Linked DNA regions of Homo sapiens: regions 2 and 3 are each linked to region 1. The links come from fine-mapping of genetic effects on gene expression. A gene starts in region 1. Each other region holds a variant in brackets. All regions are shown on one strand. Distances are between the middles of the regions.

Region 1 (4,234 bases):
GTACCAAATTATATGGTTGGTCTTGCCTCACCTTTTGCCTCTAGTTTTCTATACCCAAGTTCCTTTCCTTCCCCTATTATTCATGAACATGTTTTTTGCCCTAGTGTTTCTCAATGGTTCCTGCCCATCCCCCCAGTTGAAATAGCATGGGGGTCAGGGGAGAGCATGGAGAAGGGGAGACCTTGTAACAAACTAGCAAGGGGTTTCTACCTTTCCTCTATCTCCAAGATTCTATTAATAGTATATTCTCCTAAAGGTCCTATTAGTTTACATAGCTCAAGTGGGGAGACAATGATAGCTAATATTTAGTATTCACCTAATAGTGTCAGATACTATGCTAGGTGAGTTACCAAAGATATTTTGACTCTTCATAACAACTAGACAACGCGGATCCCACTATTTCTGTTTCTGAGATGGGTAGATACAAGTTCTGACCCAGTAATTCGCTCAAAGTCGTGCAGCTAGTTAGCTGGCAGCGTCCTTGCACATCTAATTGCAGATGCATCTGCATCTACATTAGAGTAAATGTTCCAATTATACTCATACAATGAATGCTATGAATCTGGCCAACAGAATTCCAGACACTAACAAGTAAATAAATCAGGCTTTCCTCAATCCCAGTAATTCATGTTTAATATTCCTTGGCAAATACTGAATTTCAATCTGTGCTTATTTCATAGAGTAGAATCTTTCAAATGTTGTGTTATCGAGTCCTACATAGTCAAAGGGAGGGGAAAGACAAGGAGGGTGATTAAGGTGAAGCGTTTCTTCCATTACTGGTAGAACGAAGTTTCTCATCTCTTAAGCACCGAATTCTGCAATCATTCCAAAAGTGGAAGCTCAGCTCACAGCGCATTTTGGGGAAGCTTAAACCACACTAACCATTTAAGGTCAAGCAAACAATTGGCCAACCCTAACGTGAATTGTGCAGGGTTTTCATCTCAGATGTAACAGATCTCTCTATGTCTACATCCCAACTCCAGAAAACGAGAAATCGAGTTCCTCCTCTCACCATCGAAGCTCTGCAGACACCTCGCTGGAGACCCCATGGTGAGCCTCATCACGTAAAGGCCCCCTCGCAAGCTGCCGGCTCCAGCTTGCGCCCCACGTCTACCTAGGCTCCCTCTAGCCTCTTTAACGCACAGTCGAGCAACAGGCCCCTTGCAATCAACTCTAGCCGCCGGACTCCCGACCAGGTCTCTCGCTCGGGGTCAGAAGGAGGCGCGGGAGGGAGGGCGGCGGCGGCGGCGCCCGCGGGGCGGGGCGGGGACTGTGCGCAAGCGGGGGGCGGGCGCAGGCCGCGGTCTCGCTCCGCTCCCCTTTGTTCTCTCCCATTGTGTGGCACTTCCTCCTCAGGCGCTTCTTCTCTGCACCCTGGCAGCCCGTGGGGAGTTCGGGAAGGGGCCCTGGATGCCTTTTCTGCTTGTTTTTGAGTACGTGAGGACCTCCCCGGCACCGCCTCGCGCGGGTCCCTGCCCCGTGCCCAGGCGGAGGCGGGGTGGCCACTGTCCTTCCTTCCCGCTCCGCGCCCTCGGCGGCTTCCCCGCGGCCCCCTGCGCCGCGCCCCCTCCAGGAGGCGTCCTGACCCCGCACTCCGGCCTTTCACCTCCCGACCGTCAGCCTCAGGGCCGCCGCGGCGACGCGCGACCCCTTCCCTCTGAGGGGCGCGGGCTCCGGACGCGCCGGGCTCTGCCAGGCATCTAGTGGAGGGTCGGAGGTCGGCGACCAGCCCGAGCCCAGCCGTCCCGGGAGCTGGCGCGAGTGTCGCCACGACCCTCCCTGTCCCTTGCGCTCGCGCTGCCCGGCCGCCGGGCGGCCGCCTCAGCCCCCTTATATAGCCCTCTAAAAATAGCTCGCCTCGCACCGCCTTGTAAGGCAGCAGGGAGATCCGCAGCGTGCCAATCCGCGCCCGCCGCCAGGGCCAAGCCCCGCCCCAGGCTCTGCTCCGGGCTCCCCATTGGTCCTCAGTGACTTCATGAGCCCCCTGTTTACCTTACATGGTCACACGCGGCCTAATGGACGCCCTCCTCGAGATCCCACGGCTGCGCGGAGAACCGAACGGAGGGAGGGAGTTTGGGGAGGGGGAAGAGCAGGAGGAGGAGAAAAGGGAGGGGGAAGACTACAAACTAGCAAGGATGGGGTGGGGGGTGGGGAGGGAAGGGAAGGGGGGGGAAGAGAAGCGATCGCGAGAGAAAAAAATGCAACCTCCCAAAATAAAGAGCAAAGATTGCATTAGGAGCGAACAGCGCTGCAGAAATAGATGGCAGCTTCGTGTCAGTGAGTTTGCATCCCCCTTCCTGATCCACGAGCTGGAGTGATTAGAGCCCTGGAAGGGAATTGTTACTCCCGTGGAGAAGTCCCCTTTTCCTGGCAGTCGTCTGCACTGTACACGCTGGATGCCTCTCTCCATCCACCCCACTCACTCGCTCCTCTCTCACCTCCTCTCTCCCTCTCCTGCATTGATTTTTTTTTTTCCTTTTTAGTTGACTGAAACAAAACAAAACAAAAGGGCCACTGGATGTCTGCCTTCTTGGGGGGTGAGCCAGACAGACTGACAAACAAACAGCCCCAACTGTGTTCGGGGGAGGGTTTCGCCTCCCGTTTTGCCCGGCAGCAGCAGCATGGACGTGTTGGCTAGTTATAGTATATTCCAGGAGCTACAACTTGTCCACGACACCGGCTACTTCTCAGCTTTACCATCCCTGGAGGAGACCTGGCAGCAGGTGAATGATTTAAATTACTTGTGTAAATCGTGTGGTGGCGGCGGAGACGCAGGGGCTGCGTTGGTGTGGGCTCTGGGTTGAAATTTTTGTTTGTTTGTTTGACTTTTTTTTCTTCCTTTTTGGCTGTCTGTTGTTGAAAATGTTTTCTGAAACAGTCATCTGCGCTTACCTCTCCACCCACCCCTAACCTCGTAGAGTGCCGAGCTGAGCAGCCGGTGCGAGCTGCCTGCGTTTCAGTCGCCAACACACATCCCTGCGCACACGTTGTCGGGTTTGCTGTCCCCTATCAGAGACCTGCCGAACTTCTGGGGTTCGGAGGAGCCGGGTGGGAAGGTGGTTTGGGGTGTTAGGAGCGATTGCTGACAGGGACCACGTTCTCGCATGCATGAGCTCTACCCACTTGATACCTGAAATCAGGTTCATCTGTTTCAACTGGTGCTTATGACCATCGGATGGGGGGCGGGGGAGGGTGGGCAGGAGCAAAGCGGAGTGTTTTTCAGTAATTAGCGAGTGTCAATAAAGAATAGGAGCTTGATTTTGAGATTAGAAGGTAGGCAAAAGAGAGAAGAGCCCACTGACAAAAGATACTCAAGGAGGACGGGAAGATGTAGCTGAGGCTGACAATGAATTGTAGGTTTTCCCAGTGTGATCCCTCCAGAAAGAGAACACCCTCTATGCGTGTCCTTGTTTCTCTTTTTTGTTTAGGGTCCTTCTCTAGTTAGGCAGCACAACCTCGGACAAAGGCTGATGTGTGCTTCCATGCCTTTGACTTTGTCTTAGAGGACTAGTTAAGAAACTCCCAGGATGCTGAAGGGCACCGATGCCAAGTTGGCTAGCCGTCCCAGGGAGGATGAAGTGGGGCTGGTGACAAGTTCACTGGGCTTTGTGAAGTGGAATAAAGAAAGTGCTGGTCAGTGGAAAGTGCTGGCTCTGCTGCGGAAACAGTGGTTTTTTTCAGCAGCGATTAGGAGCTGCTGAGGGGACATTCTGCAGGAAAGATGGTGGGTGGGGGCGGGGGGACACGGGTATTTAAAAATTGTACAGTGTGCACCATGGAAAGTCCAAGAAGACAGTCCGGATTTGCACATAGGAAGTGTGAACTTGTACAGTCCGTCCTGGAGAAACCCGCTTGCCCTTGGGGGGAGGGCTGTGAGAGGCTCGGTGTGTGGCTGCTCGTGTAATTTCTTCGCTTAGTGACAGCAGCTTGTTAAGGCTAATGAACGGCTGAATTTCCTCTGCCGGGATCCAAAGCAGGATTTGCCAGCTTGAGGCTGAGATGTAACAGTCTCTGCTTTAGCAAAAGAGGTTTGGCTTTTGGTATAAGGAGCCGAGTGGCAAGGCGGATCCTTTAACTGTACCATTGTTGCTAGTTCACTTCTGGTCAGAGGCTGTGAGTTTTCCTCCAGGTATTGGCGTCTGGTGTCTCTGTGTCCACACATGCATTCTTGTCCAAGGACGCTAGCAGATGCTTGACTCTGTCTCTCTGTAAACACATACACAGTTCACATATT
Region 2 (4,234 bases), 110 kb after region 1:
GCAAGCATGCAGCCTGCAGGGAGAATCTGGTCCTCATGGGCCAGGTTTTTGCCATCTGCTCCTAGGCCAGGCACCTTAACCCCTTCCCACTTTCTCTACCCTTATTGGAGTCAAAGCAGTTATGTTCTCCTTCAATGAAGGAGAACCTTCTACGAAAGGGTCCCTCTGTTGACAGAGATGTATCCCTAACTCAGGCCTTTCATACTATTACTTCCCAAATTCTCTGCCAGAGACTTTCACATTCCTTATTCCTTCTCCATCTTACAGCTTCATTCAGTAGAATGAAGACCCTCAAGACCCTCCAGCCTCAAGGTGAGAACAGCCTTTTCTTTACTCTGCGACTTCCCCTAGGTAATCAAGACGTAGCTTTTAATGATCTACTGCAATATGATGGCTTCCACATACGGGTCAAGCCACCAGTGTACAATTTGGTTTCTATTTCCACTGTGCTCTGATGCCACCGCTGGCCCTGAGGCCACTTCCGGCCCCAGCAGTGTCATATTCCCTGACCATACCCAAGCCCCCTTCCTCCTGGGCCTTGCCCCAGGATTTGGGACGCCAGTTTCTGGTTCTTCAGTGTCCACCATTTTGGTTTCCTCAGACCACTCCTCTGTCCCTTGTGGCATCTGCTCTTCCTGATCTTTGAATATAGTGATTTTTAGAGATTATGCCCATGTGTTCCCTCTATCCGCTCCCTCTTGTTAACCTCACTTCCTCCCATTTTAAACAAATGACCTCATCTCTATTCATCATGTCCCCAGCCTGGTTCTAAACTCTGAACTAGCTTTTCCACCTTCCTTTGAGACATCTTCAACTGAATATTTTTGAAACTTCACATTCTACTTCCTAAAACTAAATTGATCAGTGTTCTCGATTTCGTTTTAGGGTGGTTTGGGTTTGCCCAAACCCGAACCATCTTTTTCTCCTAAATTTCCTATTTCCATTCATTTCTTGATCTATAGACATCTCTTGATCTAGAAATAGCTCAAGGTAATTCCAGGGGGCAGGGATGAGGGGAGGGTGGGCTCTGCTCTCACTGCCATTCAGGGATCAGGGTGAGGGGAGCTTCTGTCATCTTCAGTGCATGGCTTCTGAGGAAGTCCCAAGCATTGACATCCAGATGGCAAGAGGAGAAAAGGCACTGAGAATCCTGTGTGGAGATTTACACAGGCCAGGCCTGGGAGTGGCGCACATCATTTTGTTCACATTTCATTGGCTAGAACTTGGTCACATGGTGTAATTGCCAAGGAGGCTGGGTAATATCTGACTGTGTGTCCCAGAGAAGATGGGTTTTAATGAGTAGTTAGCTGTCTCTCATTCTCCCTGTAACCTGTGTCCAAAGACTAAAAGGTGGTGTCCTTTACTCCTCCTGATCTCCTTCCCTTTTCCAGTTAGTCACCAGCTCCTGTTGTTATTTCCTCTACAATACCACTCATCACATCCAGCCTCTGTTTTCTATCCTGAATGTCACGCCATCTTAGCCCAGGCCCTCATGAGCTCTAACTGGACAACTATAATGGCCTTTAAATTCCAAGTCTTTCTCCCTTCTAATCTCTCATTCATTCCACCAATACTTATCAAGCACTATATTCTGGGCAGCATGTTAACAACTAGAGGCAAATAAAGAAATGGATAGACCTTGACCCTGCATTTTTAATCTTGCACAGAAAATCAGTTAAAAAAATGGCTGCTACAAAAAAATTAGCTGGGCATGCAGGCACGCACCTATGGTCCCAGCTACTCAGGAGGCTGAGGCAGGAGAATCACTTGAACCTATGAGATGATGCCACTGCCCTCCAGCCTGGGTGACAGAGAGAGACTCTGTCTCAAAAAAAAAAAAAAAA[G/AAAG]GCTGTTATCACATTAAGTTGTTATTACCGCTAATGGGGAAGTGCAGGGTACAAGAGGAACATGTGGGAAGGCCCCAAACTCCCTATTTTTTCATGTAAGCAGGACACATCCCCTTCACTGTTCATTGTTCCCTGGCCTGCCATTCTGTTTTATTTTTATTACAGTCCTTAACATCATCTGAAATTATCATATATATTTATGTTTATTTAATGATTCTGTGTCTTGTCCCACCAGAATGGGAACTCCACCAAGAGCAGAGACTGTGACTCACTTGTCAGCAGTAGATTCACTGGGTTGAACAGTGCTGACACATAGTAGAAAGGGATCTAGGGGCCAGGCACAGTGGCTCACGTCTGTAATCCCAGCATCTTGGGAGGCTGAGGTGGTTGGATCACCTGAGGTCAGGAGTTCAAGACCAGCCTGGCCAACATGGTGAAACCCTGTATCTACTAAAAATAGAAAAATTAGCCAGGCATGGTGGCACACGCCTGTAATCCCAGCTACTTGGGAGGCTGACAGGAGGAAATCACTTGAACCTGGGAGGTGGAGGTTGCAGTGAGCCAAGATTGCGCTACTGCACTCCAGCCTGGGAACAGAGAGAGACTCTATCTCAAAAGAAAAAAAAAAAGGAAAGGGATCTAGTCTGGGGGTTCAGATTAGGTTTCTGGAAGAAATGATCTGTAGCATGAAGATGGAAAGATGCACGCAAGCTAACTAGGTTGGTGGTGGGAAGGAGGGAGGAATCACCATTCAAAGCCAGGAGGAGAGAGAACATGGCTGAAATTCAGTGTTGGGGAGGGGGAGAGTTGAAGCTAGACCTTGCTTGTAAACTAGGTGTGTAGGTTTAAATTTTCTCCTGAAACCAATGAGGAGTCACATTAGGATCCAATTAGAGTTTTAAACCCCTCTAGTGCTCTTTGTAGAATAAATGGCAGGGCTGAGGGCTGGGGAACCTGTGAGAACGCAGGGAAGATAGCCTGGTAGCATGAGCCAGAACAGGTCTGGTGCCTTCCAGATCAACTTTTCAAAAGTATTAGCGCAGATGATATCATCCCCTCAAAGAAAAGTGTTCCAATGGTGACTGTAACAAAACGTTGGATGATTACTACATTTTTCCACTTATATTTTATCTTTCCTAGTTCAAGTCCTGCCTCCTCCTAGAGGCTTTCCATGATTCCCCCTACTCTAAACTGCTGCAGAATTTTATATTTATATAATTCATTTGTCATGAATGCACTGTCCTATAATTTTCGTAACCTTTGCAGTTATGCCCAGCGTTCCCCCAATAGATTTCTAGCGTCTTCAAAAACTAACTTTTGTTTGTTATTTTATAAAAGTGTGCTTGTAGAAATGTAATTTGAACAAACTAATTCATGCTAGAGTATTTGTCACTGATTATGACAACTACCCCCATGATATAGGAATCTCAAAAGAGGAAAAAGGGAAAAAGAGTTCTTTAGGAAAAGAGAAATGTTTAGCCCCATCTTTCTGAGAACATATCTTCTTAGGATGTTACAAAGTAGAAATATGGCCCATTGCTTCACCCCAATGCTACAGACAAATCGTAGTGAGATTTCTGGCACCCCTGGGGAGAGATTTTTAAGTGAAAGAAGATGATGATACCCTACGTTGCCTCCATGGATATCCTAAAGTCAAGCGTGCTAGCACCTTCCTGACGATCAGTAGCTCCTTCTTTCCTCTGGAACATTCAAATGTTGACAATCACGTACTCCAGCAGGTGGAAGTGGATTTAGAAAACGTGTGATCCTTTGTCTGGGTCTTTGACTGACAGTCTCACAGAGCAGGGTGGCAGGGAAATATATTTTAATTCCAGGTGATATTGGAGAGCCACCCAATTGTGAAAAGGAGATTTTCTCTTAAATGCAGCCTTTCTCTTCCTATTTCCATCCTCCAAAATCCAGACCATCAAGGCCAGACTTGCAATTCAGAGAAAGAAGAGCACCAGAGGGCCCAGTGGGGTTTTTATTTCTGAAGTGTTTGTGCTGCAAGAGGTCAAAGGGGGTAGGGAATTGTGTTTGGAGGAAGCAGAGTAATTGTCACCTGGGAAGCCAGTTATTCACAAACTCTAGGAAGTAAAAATGAAAAAGCCCTTTTATATCAACCCGTGTCTCCCCTTGTCAGGGCAGAATTTGCCAGTGATAATTGCTGCTGAGGTGAACATCTCAATGTTAAGACATCATTTATTCCCCTTTCCTTTGTCTTTCGGACCATCCTTACATGACTTCCATTTTCTCAGTCTGCTATTTCTCATTTTCTTTTTAATAATAATTAAACTAGCAGGTACTTATCTTTTGCAGGACTTACGTTTGCATTTGTTTTGCTTTTTGTGTGTCACACCATCATTGTAGTTACATGAAAATACCCCTTT
Region 3 (4,234 bases), 32 kb after region 1:
GGGAAGGGGTGGTGTGGGAAAGGCAGGCGCTGAACCTGATTCCCAGGCCAGAGTTCTTTTCACCAATAAAAAATGACAGTTGAAAATAGCGTTTTGTTCACTCATCCTAATTGCTTCTCTTCCTGGTGGTTTCTGGAGGCCAGAGGAGAAAAGAGGAAGTGGCAGAGGGAGAGGGCATTCTCCAGGGCAAGGAGACAGCTTTTACTTCCAACACAGGTGCATACTCTCAGGGCTACCCCGTGAAGCTAAATTGGCCTCTCTGTTTAGAAATCCGGATCTGTCCCAGACAGTAAGCATTTAATTTTTTTTTTTTCCAAATGAAAAACGTTAGAGACAAGTAAATAACACCTATAGTTAAATCTGAAAATACTGACGTGTTCTACCAGAAATGTTGGTAATAAACACATGCACACTGCTTCTGATGTTCCTTTGGTGAAGAAGGAAGAATTTCTGGCTTTCATGATACTCTTGAATCTCTTCCTACCCAGGATTGTGATCACTGTTGACTTTCACTTTGATTGTTTGGGAGTTGATTCAATTACTCATTCATTCATTCATTCATTTGACAAATGCTTGAGGCAGGCTGCAAGTCAGGCACAGGTCTGGTATCTTTGAAGAGTCACATTCTTGTGAAGTTTACGTTTTAGATGTTGTGAGGCTTGTATCCATGGTGAAGCAGGAAATTAAACCTTCATAGCATCCTGTAAACATGGATTATTGAGTGTCTTAGGGCTTTTAATAAAGGCCTTGAGGTCCCTGTCAGAGGAGGGTTCAAAGACCACTTTCTTCCAGGTTCTCCAAACCCTTTTTTTTTTTAACCACTCAATGACAGCAGAGCTATCTATCAGTTCCTCTGAACTTGTTCTGAATGAGCTTTTCTTACTGTTCAGTCTTCACTCTCCTATTACTGTTTTGCTTCCTCATAGAATTCCAGATTAGTGGGCCCCTGGAAGTTCAGCTGGTAGATGAGAAAACTGAGCCCATTGAAGTTAAAGTCACCCAGCTAGTCAGGGTTGATCTTCCCAACTCAGAGTCCCCTGCTTACTTAAACTTTTATATCCAACAGGTTTACTTCCCCTGGAAACTTATTTGGTATTTTTTATTTTCCATCTCCATGCCCTCGATAGGTTTCTTTATGTCTGTCTGGAAGTGTAATGAAAAATAACACTAGTTATTGAATAGCTACAACATACAGAGTGTGCATGCCCAGCCCTTCCAAGTACTTGGCATGTCAATTGATTGAACTCTCACAATGCTTCTGCGTTGTAGGTACTACTATTACCCCATTTTACAGGTGAGGAAACTGAGGCACAGAGGGGTTAACTTCTCCCAGGGGGATTGAGCTAGTGAGTAGTGTAACCTGATATTGGACCCAGGCAGTCTGGCTCCAGGGCCAATGCTTGGGTCCCTGTTCTTCTGCCTCTCAGTATGCGAATGGCCAGTCTGTTTCTTTAATTGGAGTGAGTGGCACTTGGCACACCCACACAGCCACCTTAAACATTGTGGGAAATCAAGTCCAAGTATCTCAAGTAACAGTACAACAATCCATATCAGGAAAAACAGCTTAGGGCTTGACTTCATTATGGTTTTGGCTGCCATTTTATGCATTCTGAGTAGAAGAAACATTCCTCCTAGCGCCCCCACCTTGTCTTTAACATTCCGCAGTGGAAGTTCCTCAAAGCTCTCCGTTTTGAAAGCATCCTCTATGATTACCAGCCACTAAATTGCATCTGCCACCGAGGGCCCAATGGGCTTTGAACCTGTTATTCTTGGGAAATTCAAGCTGCGAGGGAGAGAGAGAACGTTGTACACGTGTGCAGCTGTGCTTTGGAGTACAAGAAGTAATCGTATGTGTCTGTGTGTTTTTTATGGGGGTAGGGGAAGGGTATATTAATTAACCCAACTGAGAAGGAGATGACTGTGTTCCAGGAAGGAGCCAATGAAATGAGTTTGCTTTAAAAAAAAAAAAAAAAAAAAATCCCAGTAGCCCGAGTCAGCCTGTGCAAGTGATTTGGGAGAGGAAGGGGAGATGATGTAACTGGTTCGGCATGTTCCC[G/A]TCTTGGCCAGTGAGTGTAAAGGGGCCCAGGGAGTTTGAGGAGGGTGTGTGAGTGTGTGTGCAAAGTTAACAGGAGCGGGTGGGGGTGCATAAGAGCGGGCTGTAAAACAGGATTAATAATGCCTTGTCAGACCTTTCCCTGTTACTGTGTTTTTCAGTAATTTTGGTTTGAATGAGGGCTCTCTAGCCAATTAATGTTTATTTGTTTCCTTTGGCAAGATCCACTGGGGGGAGGAATGAGATTGGTGAGTTTAAAATTTTTGTTTTGTTGTTGCATTTTGGAAGAAGAGGCGAGTAATGTGAGTTTGGGTTTTCAATGATGGCTCCCCCCCTCCCCCTCTTAAGAGGCAGGAGGCAAGACATGGCCAGCTGGTGCCTTGAACTGACACAGGTGCAGAGGCTGTAGGGGGTGGGGAGCCAAGAATAATTACAGGTTTCTGAAGCATCAGGCCCTGCCTGACACAAGCGCTCGTCAAGAAAACTGCTCTTTATGGAAAATTAATGGGAAGCTGAAAAAGCGACAGGGCCATTGTTGTTCTTAGGAAGCCATCACTCCTCTGAAAAGAGGCCTCCTCCCACGTCCTTGGGCTCTTGACGAACTGCTTAGAGTCCTCTCCTTTTGGAGCAGGGACCGACTGGTTGCCATTGTCATGGGATGTGATGGGTTTTTCCCATTGGAGTGTCTCTCCTGCATTTTCTCATTCTTAAATCTCACTTTCAGTGCAGATCCAGCCCTTTGCACTTCCCAGTAGTATGGGTAGGATTATTTTTATTGACTCTTTAAGATGTGAATTTCATTTTGTCCGTGGAAGTGTAATGACCAAAGCAGGGCCATCTAATGGAACTTGCTTTCAATCTGTATGTAACAAGTGGGATTTCCACCAGTGAGTGCCAACCTGAATAGGGGCCTGGTTGGGAGATGAGGGCATAGGAGATGAGGGGATAGCATACAGGAGCATCTTCTAGGCCCCAGCTCTGCATAAGCAGTGTTGTCTCTTGACTATTCAGAAGCTGTAATTTAGTTATAGTCCAGTGGCCAAGTAATAGTGAGCAATTCTTCTTAAGGGCTCTCTGCAACTGTGGGTAGAGGCCAGGCCAACAGACTCCCAGTCAGTATGTCCTGCAGAGTAACATCTGGAAAAACAACTCTAAACCAAGTTAGAGAAGCCTCTCTGTGCATGGGCCATCATGTCCCTAATGGTCGCATTGAATTTTGAGGATCACAGACATAATGAATGAGGAAAATGCATTTCCAAGTTGTTGGAAGTGTAGGGGAACCCAGTGCCTTCCTTCAAGCGGTGTGAGGCCTGGGCCATAGCTACCAGCTCTGCCCAGGTTATGTGACTTTAAAGCTCACTTTGATGGTTAATTTAGATTTGAGTTGTTTTGGGAATTTCTTTTATGCACTGCAACTAAGGAATCCTTGGAAGATGAAAGGGGTATTTGAGGCTGCTTTGCATCATGTGCCTGGGGAAAGTAATTTCAAAGACATCACCCTCTCCCCAGGCCTTTAATCTTGTCTCCTTTCTCCCCCTCCAACATCCTCACCACCCACCTCCCCAAGGAAACATATGCAAACAAATATTTTCTTTGTTTGTTGAAAATAGGAGAAGAGAAACATGGAAGAGGTTTTGATAGAAATTTTTCAGCTTTCATGTTTGTTTAGATTTAAATTAGTTTTCACAGCATTGTCTCTCAAAATTTACAAATTACCAGAGGGAAATATATAACTTGGTTTCAGCTCTAGCAACCAGTAGATGTGAGAAACAGTGGAAAGCAATGCAGTCTTAACATTTGTTGTAGTCCCCTGGTTATTTCATGGAGTTCAGCAATCCTGACAGTAATGTGTAATGCTATTGTACCTCTGGGGTGTGCTATTGTTGTGGGTTTTCTTTTAACCTAATAGCTTAAAAAAAATGCAGTAAGATTTTCACTCATACTGTCTACTTGATTATCCACATTTTCTAGATGAAATTCTTTCTCTCCTAATATTTCCTGGTCATGAAAGGCAAGAAAAAGTGAACATATGCTTAATATCTTGTTAGGAATCACTCTCTAGGTCTCCCAAGGTGGATGCTTGCACTGGTTCATGCATCCTTTCTGCCACGAGGTAGATTCAGTGTTACCGTCTTCTTCCTCAAGCCTATTTATAATGTTGAAACCCAGGAAGGCAGGCAA

Direction of the effects. Positions count from the first base shown, and alleles are read on the strand shown. Sizes are in standard deviations (SD) of each study's normalised expression. Not every link is listed here.
For the expression in fibroblasts of the gene that starts at base 2,242 in region 1, G is the high allele of the variant in region 3 and A is the other (small effect, 0.16 SD a copy in GTEx).

The links. PIP is the estimated chance that this variant, and not a neighbour inherited with it, causes the effect. A credible set is the group of variants that fine-mapping cannot tell apart.
Region 2: its variant is the best candidate, but not a certain one, in a credible set for the expression of KLF7 in whole blood (INTERVAL, PIP 0.59).
Region 3: its variant is the best candidate, but not a certain one, in a credible set for the expression of KLF7 in fibroblasts (GTEx, PIP 0.52).

The regions. Positions count from the first base shown.
Region 1 is chr2:207,163,956-207,168,189 of GRCh38, reverse strand. It overlaps KLF7 (KLF transcription factor 7), which reads left to right and starts at 2,242. Exons shown (of 4, transcript NM_003709.4): 1 at 2,242-2,723. The coding sequence starts at 2,622. MIR7845 (microRNA 7845) reads right to left here and starts at 1,790; the gene lies at 1,692-1,790. RefSeq lists silencers at 731-780, 1,401-2,040 and enhancers at 398-1,106, 1,107-1,814, 1,815-2,523, 2,531-2,630, 3,232-3,940 and 1 more.
Region 2 is chr2:207,049,435-207,053,668 of GRCh38, reverse strand. No RefSeq gene overlaps it. Among named protein-coding and RNA genes, the nearest start is that of MIR2355, 59 kb to the left of the region's middle. The variant G/AAAG (reference allele first, on the strand shown) is at 1,845.
Region 3 is chr2:207,131,899-207,136,132 of GRCh38, reverse strand. All of the region lies in intron 1 of KLF7 (KLF transcription factor 7), which reads left to right. Among named protein-coding and RNA genes, the nearest start is that of MIR2355, 24 kb to the right of the region's middle. The variant G/A (reference allele first, on the strand shown) is at 2,057.